Homo sapiens: one gene and its partners. The protein of the gene in region 3 purifies or fractionates together with the protein of the main gene of each other region. This does not show direct contact. Each region holds a gene or a part of one and is shown on either strand. Other genes may lie near its edges.

Evidence for each region.
Region 1: the proteins of TENM4 (region 3) and EVA1C purify together in Homo sapiens (co-immunoprecipitation; one large-scale study listed by IntAct). This does not show direct contact.
Region 2: the proteins of TENM4 (region 3) and TRPM4 fractionate together in Homo sapiens (co-fractionation; one large-scale study listed by BioGRID). This does not show direct contact.
Region 4: the proteins of TENM4 (region 3) and CLEC4A purify together in Homo sapiens (co-immunoprecipitation; one large-scale study listed by IntAct). This does not show direct contact.

The regions. Positions count from the first base shown.
Region 1 is NC_000021.9:32,415,706-32,419,205, reverse strand, and holds part of EVA1C (protein eva-1 homolog C isoform 1 precursor), read right to left. Parts: intron 1-3,500. UniProt on the Homo sapiens protein: Binds heparin.
Region 2 is NC_000019.10:49,171,292-49,174,791, reverse strand, and holds part of TRPM4 (transient receptor potential cation channel subfamily M member 4), read right to left. Parts: intron 3,436-3,500; coding exon 3,374-3,435; intron 3,215-3,373; coding exon 3,023-3,214; intron 2,784-3,022; coding exon 2,684-2,783; intron 1-2,683. UniProt on the Homo sapiens protein: Calcium-activated selective cation channel that mediates membrane depolarization. While it is activated by increase in intracellular Ca(2+), it is impermeable to it.
Region 3 is NC_000011.10:79,434,531-79,438,030, forward strand, and holds part of TENM4 (teneurin-4), read right to left. Parts: intron 1-3,500. UniProt on the Homo sapiens protein: Involved in neural development, regulating the establishment of proper connectivity within the nervous system. Plays a role in the establishment of the anterior-posterior axis during gastrulation.
Region 4 is NC_000012.12:8,126,617-8,130,116, forward strand, and holds part of CLEC4A (C-type lectin domain family 4 member A), read left to right. Parts: exon of another isoform or gene 1-1,484; coding exon of another isoform or gene 1,485-1,572; intron 1,573-2,647; coding exon 2,648-2,746; intron 2,747-3,500. UniProt on the Homo sapiens protein: C-type lectin receptor that binds carbohydrates mannose and fucose but also weakly interacts with N-acetylglucosamine (GlcNAc) in a Ca(2+)-dependent manner. Involved in regulating immune reactivity.

The sequences.
Region 1 (3,500 bases), on a different chromosome or scaffold from region 3:
TTTTTTTAACTCATGAACTCATCTACGCAACAAACCTTCCCATGCACCCCCAAACCTAAAATAAAAGTTTTAAAAAATAATTATTATTACTGGCAGAAACAATTATAAAAAACATTATGAACAGAAACATTTTGAGAACACATCTCCAATATATGCACACTTATTTATAAATTACATGTTGTTCTGTCAATTTATATGTTAATTATAAGCAAAACTTAACTCCTTTTTTTATTAAGATGGAAAACCAATAGGCAAGAACAGAAGTTCTGACATGTTTTTCCTACCCCACTGGACCACTTTGTGAGTGCACCCACTTTGGAAGGACTGTGATGAAATGATGCTGATGGGAGGGTAGGAAAAGGTCAGTCTATTCAGAAGGTAACCAAAATGGCAGCAATGACCCCATGAACTTTCAAGAAAGGTTAGGCAAATTGTGGTACTTTTTTTTTCTGGCCTTGCTCCTCCCTACCCCCAACACCCTTGCAGGCGAAGTCCCCAGCCTGGCCCCATCCCTGTACTCTGGCCAGCCCTGGTGCTGGAGCCTGCCTCAGCTCTGCTCCCTAGCTGGGTGGTCTTGGGCAACTTTGTTACCCTCTCTGAGGCTGAGTTCTCATCTGCAAATGAGACTGGTCCTGATCTCACAGAGTTGCTACGAGGATGAAATCAGATAAAACTGAGTTCAATTAACTTTTACCCTCTTCCTTTCTGTTTCTTCCCTGAAACTGCTGCTAGGCTCCCCTTTCCAATAAAGCACCTGGGAGACCAAAGCCATCAATAACAGGGACCACTTGTGGGCCGAGACTCTTCTCTGCCATAAAAAGAGCCGGCAGAAAACTTTTCAGATGTAGTCACTTTCCATGGAAACAGATGAGCAGATTCAGACACTGGCTATTCATCTCTCTTCTTCTGTGGCCTCTAGACAACTCCTTCGGACATTTGGTTTGTTTTTCTTTAGTTACGAGCTGGCTTTTCACTCCATAAATTTTTTTAAAGTAAAGATAAATCTTGAATAAAAAGGATGATGTGACTGAGGCATCATGAAATGCAGAGGGAAGGGTGTGTGCATGCGTGTGTTTGCATGGCTGTGCATGCACAGGTGTCTGTGTTGCGAGGTGCTGATATGCTGGGGAAATACAGTCCTGGTCTCCCTGGTGATGAGCCCTAGGGTAGGGGGTGAAGGGGACACCCAGCCACACTCTGTGCCCTTGGATGACCTGATGCATGGGCAGAAGGTCACCCTCCCCTCTGAACTCCAGAGGTGTCCTCAACTCTAGCTGCATATTAGAATTGCCTGGGGAGCTTTCAAAAAGAGATCAGTGACTGGCTCTCCCAGGGCCAATTACATCAGAAGTCTTGGGGTGCAGCCTGAATGTCCATAGATATTTTTTTAGTCTCCCCAGGAGATTTTATTGTGCTGCCAGGACTGAGACCCAATGCTTATCTGAAAGCAAATAACAGGGTTCAACCTCTCCAAAATGAACAACTGTGTCCATCAATACTGAGTTCCCACCTCAAGGCCCCCGGGATCAATTGAATTACCATATTTCTATACCCTGGAATTCCTGGCCAGTGAAATAAAGAGCTATCAGTCAGGTTTATTTATTGGGCTGCAAATGATCTAAGTTTTGGCTGAACTGCATCCCACTAAAATTCAAACATTGGAGTCTAATCTCTAGCACTTCAGACTATGATAGTATTTGGAGACAGGGCCTTTAAATAGGTGACTACATGAAAATGAGATCATTTGAAGGAGTCTAGTCCAATATGACTGATATCCTTGTAAGAAGAGGAGGTTAGGACACAGACACACATGGAGGGAAGACCATGTGAAGATACAGCAGGGAGATGCCATTTACAAGCCAAGGAGACAGGCCTCACAAGAAATCAACTCTGCCAAGACCTTGATCTTGAACTTCTAGCCTCCAGAACTGTGATAAAATAAATGTTCCTTGTGTAAGCCACCCAGTCTGTAGTACACTGTTATGGCAGCCCTAGCAAATTAATACAATCTGGTACCAAGTACCACTTAATGCTCACTTGGGCTACCAATGGCAGGGACTGGAACACTGGCCCAGGCCAGGTGGGGTGGTGCACACCTGTAATCCTAGCTACTCAGGAGGCTAAGGGAGGAGGATCGGTTAAGGCCATGAGTTTGAGGCTGCAGTGCACTATAACTGCACCTGCAAATAGCCACTGCACTCGGGCCTGGGCAGCAGAGCATGACTCCATTAAAAAACAACAACAACACTTCTATTATAGAGTGACCTTTGTTTGAGGTCTGGGGACATTTGGGTACAAGGAAGGCCTTAAAGACTGCCCCACTCTCCTTGTTTCCCATCCCCTGTCCCTTCTACTTCTCACATTCACCACTATGTGCCCTAGGACAAAATCAAATGTGGAAACATTTGGTCATGTCTACTTTGTCCAAGGGTGGGAGTTCTTGAGGAATTCAAGTGGGAACTAGAACAACTTTCTACCCTTTCCTTCCCTTCCTTCCTCCCCACCTCTACCTAGAAGCCCATCAATCACTTTGAACTTCTTGGAGAAAAAAGGAAACAAAAGAAAAAGAAAAGGAGAGGCTGGGTGCGGTGGCTCATGCCTATAATCCCAGCACATTGGGAGGCCAAGGTGGGTGGATCACTTGAGGTCAGGAGTTCGAGACCAGCCTGGCCAAAATGGTGAAAACATGTCTCTACTAAAAATACAAAAATTAGCTGGGTGTGGTGGTGGGTGCCCATAATCCCAGCTACTCAGGAGGCTGAGGCAGGAGAGTTGCTTGAACCTGGGAGGCAGAGGTTGCAGTGAGCCGAGACTGTACCACTGCACTCCAGCCTGGGCAACAGAGTGAAACTGCGTCTCAAAAAGAAAAAAAAAAAAAAAAAAAGAAAAAGAAAAAGAAAAGGAGAGAAAGGAAAGAAGCAGGGAGGAAAGAGAAGACCCAGCTTACCTTCAGCAGAGAAACAACACAAATTAGAAGCACACACACACACACACACACAAAACAGTAAGTACTGAGGGACCATCACAAACTAAATACAAGAGACACACTGAAACACCACTCTTTAAGGCAAAAATATGAGGATCCCTTGCTTTTTATGGCTGCTACTCAAGAGGGCACCCCTCCCTCCTCTCAGCACTCATCCTCAAGCTCCAGCTCCCTGTCTTGTTCTCTGAACAAAGAACTATGGGCATAGCATTATACTTCTGGGGTTTGTTTTGTTTTTTAAGTCAATGATGAATTTAGACGTCTCAAGCCAAATCCTCAATTTGAGAATGCAGTCAAATGAAGAGAACTCTATCCCAAAGAGGAAAGTGGATGAAAGCCAAGCACATTTGAGTATGAGATTAAGGATCAGAGGCACTAATTTTGCATGAACTTCTCTTGCCTTCGCTGGGATTCATTTTTAATGCAGTGATGATAGCCTTCCAGTGGCCGCTGGCGACATCTCAAAATCTTTGGAGATGAGAGAGAAGGCGGTGTTTGGGGAGCCTGTTTACTA
Region 2 (3,500 bases), on a different chromosome or scaffold from region 3:
GGTCCAGTTTATTTGGTTTATTTATTTAGGTTTTTTTTTTTTTTTTTTGAGACAGAGTCTTGCCCTATCACCCAGGCTGGAGTGCAGTGGCACAATCTGCCTCCTAGGTTCGAGCGATTCCCCTGCCTCAGCCACCCAAGTAGCTGGGATTACAGGTATGCGCCACCCTCCCCAACTTATTATTTGTATTTTTTATAGAGGTGGCATTTCACCATGCTGCCCAGGCTGGTCTCAAACTCCTGGGCTCAAGCGATCTTCCCTCCTCAGCCTCCCAAAGTGCTGAAATTACACGTGTGAGCCACTGTGCCTGGCCAAGGTCCGGTTTAAATGCCAACTTCTCTGGCCAGGTGCAGTGGCTCACACCTGTAATCCCAGCACTTTGGGAGGCCGAGGTGGATGGATCATGAGGTCAGGAGTTCGAGGCCAGCCTGACCAACATGGTGAAACACCGTCTCTACTAAAAATACAAAAATCAGCCGGGCATGATGGCACGTGCCTGTAATCCCGGCTACTCAGGAGGGTGAGGCAGGAGAATCGCTTGAACCCGGGAGGCGGAGGTTGCAGTGAGCCAAGCTCGCACCACTGCACTCCAGCCTGGGCGACAGAGCAAGACTCTGTCTCAAAATACACACACACACACACACACAACTTTTCCTTGAAGTTTTCCTTCTAACGACAGTGATTCTTGCCTGTGCTTCTGTCTTAAATTTTACCTAAGGTTGTATCCAAACAATCCTAGTGGGATCTGGGGTCTTTGAGAGCAGGAAATGGGTTGGCTTTAGTCTCTGGAGCCTAGGATTGTATTTGTTGACTAAATAAAGGAGGCTGGCATGGTGGCTCATGCCTGTAATCCCAGCACTTTGGGAGACTGAGGCAGGAGGATCAGTTGAGGCCAGGAGTTCATGACCAGCATGGGCAACAGAGCAAGACCTCGTCTGTACAAAAAAAAAATTTTTTTTTTGTTTAATTTACCAGGTGTAGTGGTGGGCGGGTATGTTCCCAGCTACTTGGAAGGCTGGGGTGGGAGGATCACTTGAGCCTGGGAGGTTGAGGCTGCACTGAGCCGTGATCACACCACTATACTCCAGCTTGGCCTACAGAGCAAGACCCTGTCTCAATAAGTGAATAAATAAATAAGACCCTCCCCAGCCTCTCCCAGGTGTGCATTATGCTCCCCCGCCTTGGTTTTCATCATTCCGTCCTCCAAGCTGCCATTTCTAGTGAAATATCTGGACTTCCTCACTGGGAGACAGTGCTTTGGTTCATGTCTAGCCAGAGTGCTTCATGTATATTGGAAGCATGTAGGGAAGGAAGAATGGGTGGGTGGATGGATAGATGGAAGAACAGTTGGATGGATGAATGAAAAGATGGATGGGTAGATGGGTAAATGGATGGAAGATGGGTGGATGGAGGAATGAGTGAATGGAATTGTCAGTGGATGTGTGGATGGACAGGTGAGAAGATGGATGGATGGAGGAATGAGCGGATGGAATTCTCAGGAATTGTCAGTGGATGTGTGGATGGACAGGTGAGAAGATGGATGGATGGAGGAATGAGTAGATGGAATTCTCAGGAATTTTCAGTGGATGTGCAGATGGACAGGTGAGAAGATGGATGGATAGAAGAATGAGCAGATGGCATTCTCAGGAATTGTCAGTGGATGCATGGATGGACAGGTGAGAAGATGGATGGATGGAAGAATAAGTGAATGGAATTGTCAGTGGATGTGTGGATGGACAGGTGAGAAGATGGATGGATGGAAGAATGAGTGAATGGAATTTTCAGTGGATGTGTGGATGGACAGGTGAGAAGATGGATGGATGGAACAATAAGTGGATGGAATTGTCAGTGGATGTGTGGATGGACAGGTGAGAAGACGGATGGAGGAATGAGCGGATGGAATTCTCAGGAATTGTCAGTGGATGTGTGGATGGACAGGTGAGAAGACGGATGGAGGAATGAGCGGATGGCATTCTCAGGAATTGTCAGTGGATGTGTGGATGGACAGGTGAGAAGATGGATGGATGGAAGAATGAGTGAATGGAATTGTCAGTGGATGTGTGGATGGACAGGTGAGAAGATGGATGGATGGAGGAATGAGTGGATGGAATTCTCAGGAATTTTCGGTGGATGTGTAGATGGACAGGTGAGAAGATGGATGGATGGAAGAATGAGCAGATGGCATTCTCAGGAATTGTCAGTGGATGCATGGATGGACAGGTGAGAAGATGGATGGATGGAAGAATGACTGAATGGAATTGTCAGTGGATGTGTGGATGGACAGGTGAGAAGACGGATGGAGGAATGAGCGGATGGAATTCTCAGGAATTGTCAGTGGATGTGTGGATGGACAGGTGAAAGGATGGATGGATGAAAGAATGAGGGATGACTGGAAGGATGGTAGGTAAAGAGATGGAAAGATCGATCTGTACATGTGGATGGATGGAAAGATGAAAGAATGGATGGATGGATCCAACAGAGGAAAGCAGATGCTGGAACATAATGAAAGCATCTGGGAAAACTGCCCAAATAGCACCATGCAAAGCCCCAAAGGGGAAAAATATTAAGAGGGGTAAAGGGGGCATGGGCCTTGGATTAGAGAGGGTGGATGAAGTGCCCAGGCCAGGAAAGGTGTCTAAGGTTGAACTGAGAGAGGGGGAAGACTGGAGGGTACAACTTTTACCCTTCACAAGGGCCTTCAAAACTATGGTCTCGAATTCCTCAGACCCATCCTCAGAAGAATAGACTGTCAGGAGCTCCTTCCGGGTCATAATCCTCTCCACCTGTGGAATAGCCAGTTCTGCATCCCTAGCCCGCCTCCATCCCCAACTCCTGTTGGGCCCTGTCCAAAGGGATGGAGGAGGCCATTCCCCTCCAGGACCTAATAGTCTATATGCCCAGCACCCTCTTCTCCCGGAACCTGGAAGTCCAGGCCCCCAGCCCCTCCTCCCTCAGACCCAGGAGCCCAAGTCCCCAGTTCCCTCCCATCTCAGGATCCAGAGTTGGGCCCCCAGTGTCATACCTGGGCCTGCAGGACCTCAAGGTCCCCTTTGGGAAAGAAACGCCTGATTCGATCTCGGGCTTCGCCTTGCCTGGCTCCCCCACTCCCTGGGGCCAGAGTGTCTTCCAGGGTCTCCGCCAGGCAGTCCGCAGCTCCCCCTGAGCCAGCCACGAGGAGACATGGGAGCTGAGCCTGGGTGGCGTTCTCTATTCGCTACAGGATAAAGGCATTCTTTATTCATCACGTCAGAAAAGGCAGGATATTCACCCTACCCGGAGTCAGACCCCCAGACCCTCCCTAAGACTCAGGACCCAGGAGTCCTGGCCCCCAACCCTCCTTCCCCCTTAGATCCGGGCATCCGGGCCCCTATACCGTCAACATCTTCTCATCACCATCAATCAGGAGGAGCAGGACAGGGATGTCAATTCCAGTCCCTGAGGCAAGAAGAGAAGGGGGCTTGATTACCTCCCATCAGCCTTTGCTGGAGATAGGAGAAAAC
Region 3 (3,500 bases):
TTGCTGGCTGAAGCACTCCAGAAAGTGATGATTCCAAGAGCCAGGGAAGAAAAATGTTCTTGGAAAAAGAATTTGTGTATCAGTTCAGCAGAACAGCTCAAAATTATGCAAATTCCCTGCTTGAAGTTTGACTGTCACCCCTGCCTTCTTCTACCACCTGGGCTTCCAAGCCTGTAAGGGACTGCAAAATAAATAGCCATATTCTGGTTAAAAAGATGAAAGAGACATCATGGTTTACCTAACTGCTTTTCATGTGTGACAGAAGCTTTAGTATGGTATCTGCCTTTAACCCTGAAATGCTACTTTCTAGGAATTCATCTTAAGGAAATACTAAAACTACACAGTATGTACAAGGATGGTTACTACAGTCTTGTTATGATAATAAAAAAAAATAAACACAAAGTCAAAAAATTAGGTACTCATTAAATTATATCTGTCATACTATAACATTGGGGGTCTATGTAGCATTACAAATGTCACCGTAGGAGGAAAAGAGAGCATGAAAAGTTTTGCATGCTTTATCATTAGATGAAAATAAGCATTCAAAACACTATACTAGGATCTCATCATTTTTTCTACATTCATAAAGTCACAAGGTACAACCCAAAATGTGGTGGAACATTTTGGCTTTGCTTTTCTCTGTAATGCCTGAATTTGCTACAGTGAGCACATATTACTTTGGTCATTAGAATAAAGACTGTAAAAGAAAAAAAAAGTAATAAATATATAACCCCGGAAGCAATAGGCACATATATCTACATGGCTTCATTAGACATTTTCCATACAGAGAACATTCAGGGATCCATGTTTGCTTGGCTCCCTGAGAACTGGGGCATATTACTTTCAAAGTGGCCCCCACAGCCCATCTGCCAGTGCAAAGCAAAGATGGAGTGATTCAGCTTTCAGTTACAATAAAAGCCAAGCTGATAGACCATGTAAGAAGGCAGGTAGAAATCGGCCCCTTAGATCTAGAATTGACATTGATTTACCCTGCTAGGCTCTTGGAATCAAATCTGCAAGGAGGTGATTTAAATCCTATTCTTCTTTTGTTTAACTTTTTAGATTAATGGATGTGGGAGAAGTTACTGGGACAGGAACTACAAAAGGTTTGGGCTGGGGCTGTGTAGCTGTTTGTTAGACCAGGACAGGGGCTGAGAACCCCGGGCGGAGACTTGCACCACTGGTGCTTATCAAGTCTCATTTTCCTTCAACCTCTAGCACAATTAGAGTGTGAGCTGGCATCTTAAATTGAGTCTTTTGCTTGTGTTGCCCAACAATCTTTAATTCCTAATCACCTTCTTTTCCCTTATTTGTAACTTTTGATTTGGAAATATCGGGTTATGTAACATGTCAATCTGCATGAGGATGCAACTCTGTCAGAAAAAGGGACTCAATGAAGCACAAATTCTAACAAAACTGGAAATGACTTTCCTAAGAAAAGAAAAGAAATTTTCATTTCACGCATTTGAAGCTGGTTTTAAATAGGCTGGATGCAAGGTTGGTGGTTCTTTCGGGGCTGTTGATTTCTCTGCCCAATCTCCACCCAACAAATGCAGGATGCTTCCTGGAAGGGGATAAGGAGGTAGAAAGGAACAAGCATCTGTGAAGGGACCACAGTATGCCAGAGGCCTTATCGATGTTAAAACTGACAGTGTTCAATAATATGAAAGATTTAAAAAGATGAGGAAATGTTCTAGGTTAAAAGAGTTTAAAGAGACATGAAAAGCTGAATGAACTCATAAGCCAGGATTTTCTATTGCTATAACGGACGTTATTGGGACAATTGGAAAAATCTGAATAAAGTTTATAGACTGGATCATAAAAAAAAACCCTGACAGTGTTGCAAACTAAGTAATATTGTGCCATTTTACAGGGGAGAGGACTGAAGCTCCAAAGACAATTTGCCTAAGGCCACAGAGCCATGATTCCAACCCAATAGTTAAGAGATTAAAGTCACATCCTATCACCTTACTCCCACAAAACCACAAAAGATTGAGGAGACTATACCAAATAGAATCAGATTCTATTGGAAGAGAGTCCGTGGGAACCCATTACTCTAACACCTAGCCTTCTACCTCATATTCCAGGTCACTCCACTCACTATAGAACTATCCTTTGATGGTTCTTGTTCAGACCAAGCACTAGTTCTGCCCGTTGGCATCCGCACTGGTCAAGGCCGGTCTATTAGGGTGGCTGATCCGCTTACCGCACCACTCTACCTCCACCCCCAAACAGAGGCCTTGATGAAAACAAGATGAGAGCAGAGGAAGAACCCAAGAACTCTTTCTAGAAAACCAAAGCTCTCCGTCCCTGATCCCTTCCCCCACCACAGAAGATGGCAATTCCACAAGCCTTCCGCACCCTGCCCTCCCCTCAGTTCAAGACACATGCTGGAAATAAAAGCTTCCCCGAATTAGCCCCCTAAAAGCACACAAACATCTATGCCCTAAGTCCTGGCTGAATATCTTGAGGACTTTCAGTTCCCCAAACATTTCCAAGGACCTACGGCACACAGGTGCCGCTAAAGGAGACACCCGTTCACTCCAGGCAATCAGCTCCAACAGGTCCAGTTCCACTAAGTGGAAGGGCTTCCCGTCAACACCCTCACCGGAGAAAACGGATTCCTCCTCAGCATTCCCTTATAACACCTGGAAAGGGGAAACCTGTTTTTTGTGCTATGTGTGACTTCGCTGCAAATCTCTCTGCTCCCCAACACATGCACACACACACACACAGGCGCGCAGAAAACTAGTTCCCACTGTCACCACCAGTGAAAACACCCCTCGTAACTTTGACGAGAAGGGCTCCCCCGCTGAAAGCCCAACTGCAGAGCGCCCGGAGCGCGCTGTGAGTCCGCAGGAACGCGGCCGGGCCGGGGACGGGAGAAAGGCGCGGCCGGGACCCTGCACTGTGCCGCGCGGCGCTTGCGGCTGGAACTTGGCCTGGAACGCGGTCTTCTCGGCTCCAGTTTCCCGCCCAGGCCCCGCCCACCCGGCCGCCCCGCTGGTTCGCACCGCTGCTCCGGCCACCGAGGAGCCCAAAGTTGGCGGCGTCCCGCGGACTCCGGCGGAGAGCGCGAGGGAGTCGCGGCCGACTCCTGTACCACGAAGACAACTGGAGGCCGGCGGGGGAGGCGGGCCACGAGGGGCTGGGGCGAGGGAGCTGGGATGCGCGGGCCCGGCTCGCCGGGAAACAGGTTGCCGCGGAGTCCCGTCCCCTCCCCCTCTGCGGTCCCCGCCGCGACCTGATTCCCGCCCTGCCCGGGGAGCTAACCCAGCCGCCTCCGGGGCGCCCTCCTTCTTCCTGGATTCCCACGGCTGGACCAGAGCCCCTCTGGCAGCCGGGTTAAAGGCTCCTTCAGCAAGGTCAAGGCGCGGCCGGCTGGCACCTGGGGATTTTTTTCCAGCCGAGCACTGGCTTTTCAATCGCATTGTTAAGGATCATGGCAGCGGCAGGAAATCCGAAGGGCCCCACAGGTCTGCGGGAGGGAGGATTTATTT
Region 4 (3,500 bases), on a different chromosome or scaffold from region 3:
CAGGCACTGTGCCAGACAGAGAGTCAAGACAGAGCCACAGCCCCTGGTCTCAAGAAATTTAGAGAATGATAAAATGAACCAGTGGTTATAACATTGTATGGTAAGTGTTGTACAGTTAAGAAGTATAATAAGTGCAAGAGGCTGAGGTAGGCTTTCCGGAGGAGGTGACATCTAGAGCTGTGTGTACCAAGAATGACCTAGAGATATGAGAGAGCATGGAATTTGGGGAAACGTAAGTATGCATGACTGGAACATATGGTGCTAAGTAAAGAACTAAGAAATGAAGTTGTAGGTGGCAGAAAGAAACAGGACTCAGATCATGAAGACTGCTGTATATCATGATAAAGAGTTTGGATTTTTTCCCTCCTAAAGGTTATTTTATCAATTATCTTTTGCTGGTTAATAAGCCAATCTAAAACTTAGTGGATTAAAACAGCAACTATTTATTTAGCTCATAAATCTGTGTCTTGGCAATTGAGACTGGTGTCAGTTGGGAGATTTCCCCAGTCCTGGCTGAACTCACTCATGTATATGTGGTTGGGTACTGGCCACAGGCAACTTAGCTTCTGAGGAACAGGATGTTAGATGGAATGGCAGGAGAGATTTGGCCACGTTTCTCTTATCATTCATCAGGGTAGCCTGGGTTTGTTCACATGGCAACTGGCAGGCTTTTAAGACTGAGAGCGGAAGTAAGCAAGGCCTTTTGAAATCTCACCTTGGAACTAGCGCAGAGTTGCTCCTGCACATTCTATTGGCCAAAAGAAGTCTTACAGGCAGCCCAGATCCAGGCGGTGGAGAAATAGACCACATTTCTTGATTGAAGAAGCTGCAAAATCACATTGCAAAGCAGTGTAGATACAGGGTATGTTGAAAGTTGTGGCCATTTTTGCAATGTCACAGTCATAGAGAAAATTGAAGAATTTTAAGCAGGGAATTGATATAATTGGATTGGACTTATAGAAACATGATTTTTACAGAGGTGTGGAAAATGGATAAATGAGGACAAATTTGGAGGGAAAGAGAGGTTAGAAGGATAATTCATTAATTCAATTGAGAAATATTGTCAGACTGATCTATGGCTAGTGTTAGCGAAAAAAGAGAAGATGAAGTAATTTTGAATGATAAAGGAGGTAGAGGCTTGATGAATATTCAGTTCTGGGAAATAAGGGACCCAGAGAAGTAAAGTATGGCTCCAATATTCTGACTTTGTAAACTCAGAAATCATTAAGTTTTTCAAAGAGGTAGACAATATAGGATCAGTAGCAGGTTTGGGTTGGAAGATGGTGATTTAAGTTTTGGGCATGTTGAGTTTTATATGGCTGTGAGAACCTCAAATGGATGTGTCTACTGGGAGACACATTTGTCTGGATTTAGGGAGAGAGGTCTGAGCTTTGGAAGTCCTTCACATAGAGGTAGCAGGTGATGCCGTGGGAATATATGATATCACTCACGGAGATAACTTAGTATGAGAAAGACGGATAAGGATGGAACTCTGGGAAATGTTACATTTTAAAAGAGGTGGATGGAGGAAACGGAGCTCATCAAAGAGTGTAAGAAGCAGCAGCAAGAAAGGTAAGACAAAAACAACAAAGAGTAGTGTCCCAAGAGCTAAGGGGAAAGGCAACTGGGGTCAAGCCTTTAAGGAAGTCAAATAGGAAGAGGACTAAGTAACCCTAGGATATTACTGAGGATCCACTTTAGGGATGGTTTTAGTGAAATAGTGGAAGTAAAACCCAGACTATGATGGGTCAAGGAGCAAATGAAAGGTAGGGAGGAAAGACAAAAAGTTCAATTTCTTTTTTTTTTTTTTTTGAGATGGAGTCTTGCTCCGTCACCCAGGCTGGAGTGCAGTGGCGCAATCTCAGCTCACCGCAACCTCCGCCTCCCAGGTTCAAGCAATTCTCCTTCCTCAGCTTCCCGAGTAGCTGGGATTACAGGCACCTGCCGCTGCGCCCAGCTGATTTTTGTACTTTGAGTAGAGACGAGGTTTCACCATCTTGGCCAGGCTAGTCTCGAACTCCTGACCTGCCTCGACCTCCCAAAGTGCTGGGATTACAGGCGTGAGCCAATGTGCCCGGCCAAAAGTTCAGTTTCTAGAGGGAGAGGTGGGTTAGTTTTAAACTGGGAGAAACATGAGAGCGTTGGTGTGCTGAGGAGTAAGAGCCAGTTGGGATGGAGAGAGTAATGGAGAGAAGAGGAAGAAAATAATGCCCTCTTGATCCATGTGGGGTTCTTTTTAAAATTCTCCATTCTTCAAGGTAACCCAGAACTCCTCAGAATTAATTTGCCCCTCTCCCATCTGCTCCAAAGTCCCAGGGTGCGCACATCCTTAAATACAAGTGTTTATTGCCCTGCATCCCCCCACCCCCAAGAGTTAGCCTTTGCATGCATCTTATATTAAGTATTGAAGGAGAATGTGGAGTCCCTTTAGATCCATTATGATGGAACTGTTGTGTCCTCTTCCAACTACTGATCTTTCAGCTATTCCTAGAGATATCTATAGTTTCAGTATGGGAAATCTTTTCCCTCTACTCCAGTAATAGGGCATTTGTAAGTTTTATTTCAATAAAGAATGCAAGAAAGTAACGATAAAGAGCAAAGTCATAATGCTACCAGGAAAATAAATGGTCTTTATTCTCTTTTCCAGTTTTCTTTCAAAAATATTCTCAGCTTCTTGAAAAAAAGACTACAAAAGAGCTGGTTCATACAACATTGGAGTGTGTGAAAAAAAATATGCCCGTGGAAGGTAAAAATTAATGTGCCTAGAATTCAGTTGCTGAATGTACTATGTAAGGATCCCAAATCAATATTTCCAGTAAGATTCCCAGGTAGATCATACTGAAAAGTTGAGTCTCACAATAATTTAAGCTACAAATGTACAAATATCTAGGACATGCTGGGCATGGTGGCTCACACCTGTAATCCCAGCACTTTGGGAGGCTGAGGCGTGTGGATCACAAGGTCAACAGATCGAGACCATCCTAGCCAAAATGGTGAAACCCCGTCTCCACTAAAAGCACAAAAATTAGCTAGGCATGGTGGTACACACCTGTAATCCCAGCTACTCGGGAGGCTGAGGCAGGAGAGTCGCTTGAACCCGGGAGGCAGAGGTTGCAGTGAGCCGAGGTTGTGCCACTGCACTCCACCTGGCGACGGAGCAAGATTCCGCCTCAAAAAAACCCAAAAGACAAAAAAACAAATATATAGGACATAAAATTCTTTTGTTGTTGTTTTTTTGAGACAGGGTCTCACTTTGTTGCCCAGGCTAGAGTGCAGTAGTGCGAACATGGCTCACTACAGCCTCGACCTCCCGGGCTCAAGTGATCCTCCCATTTCTGCCTCCTGAGTAGCTGAGACTACAAGCACACGCCACTACACTCAGCTAATTTTTGTATTTTTTGTAGAGATGGAGTTTCACCATGTTGCCCAGGCTGATCTTGAACTCCTAAGCTTAAGTGATGTGGCTGTCTCAGCTTCTTGAAGGGCTGGGATTATAGGCG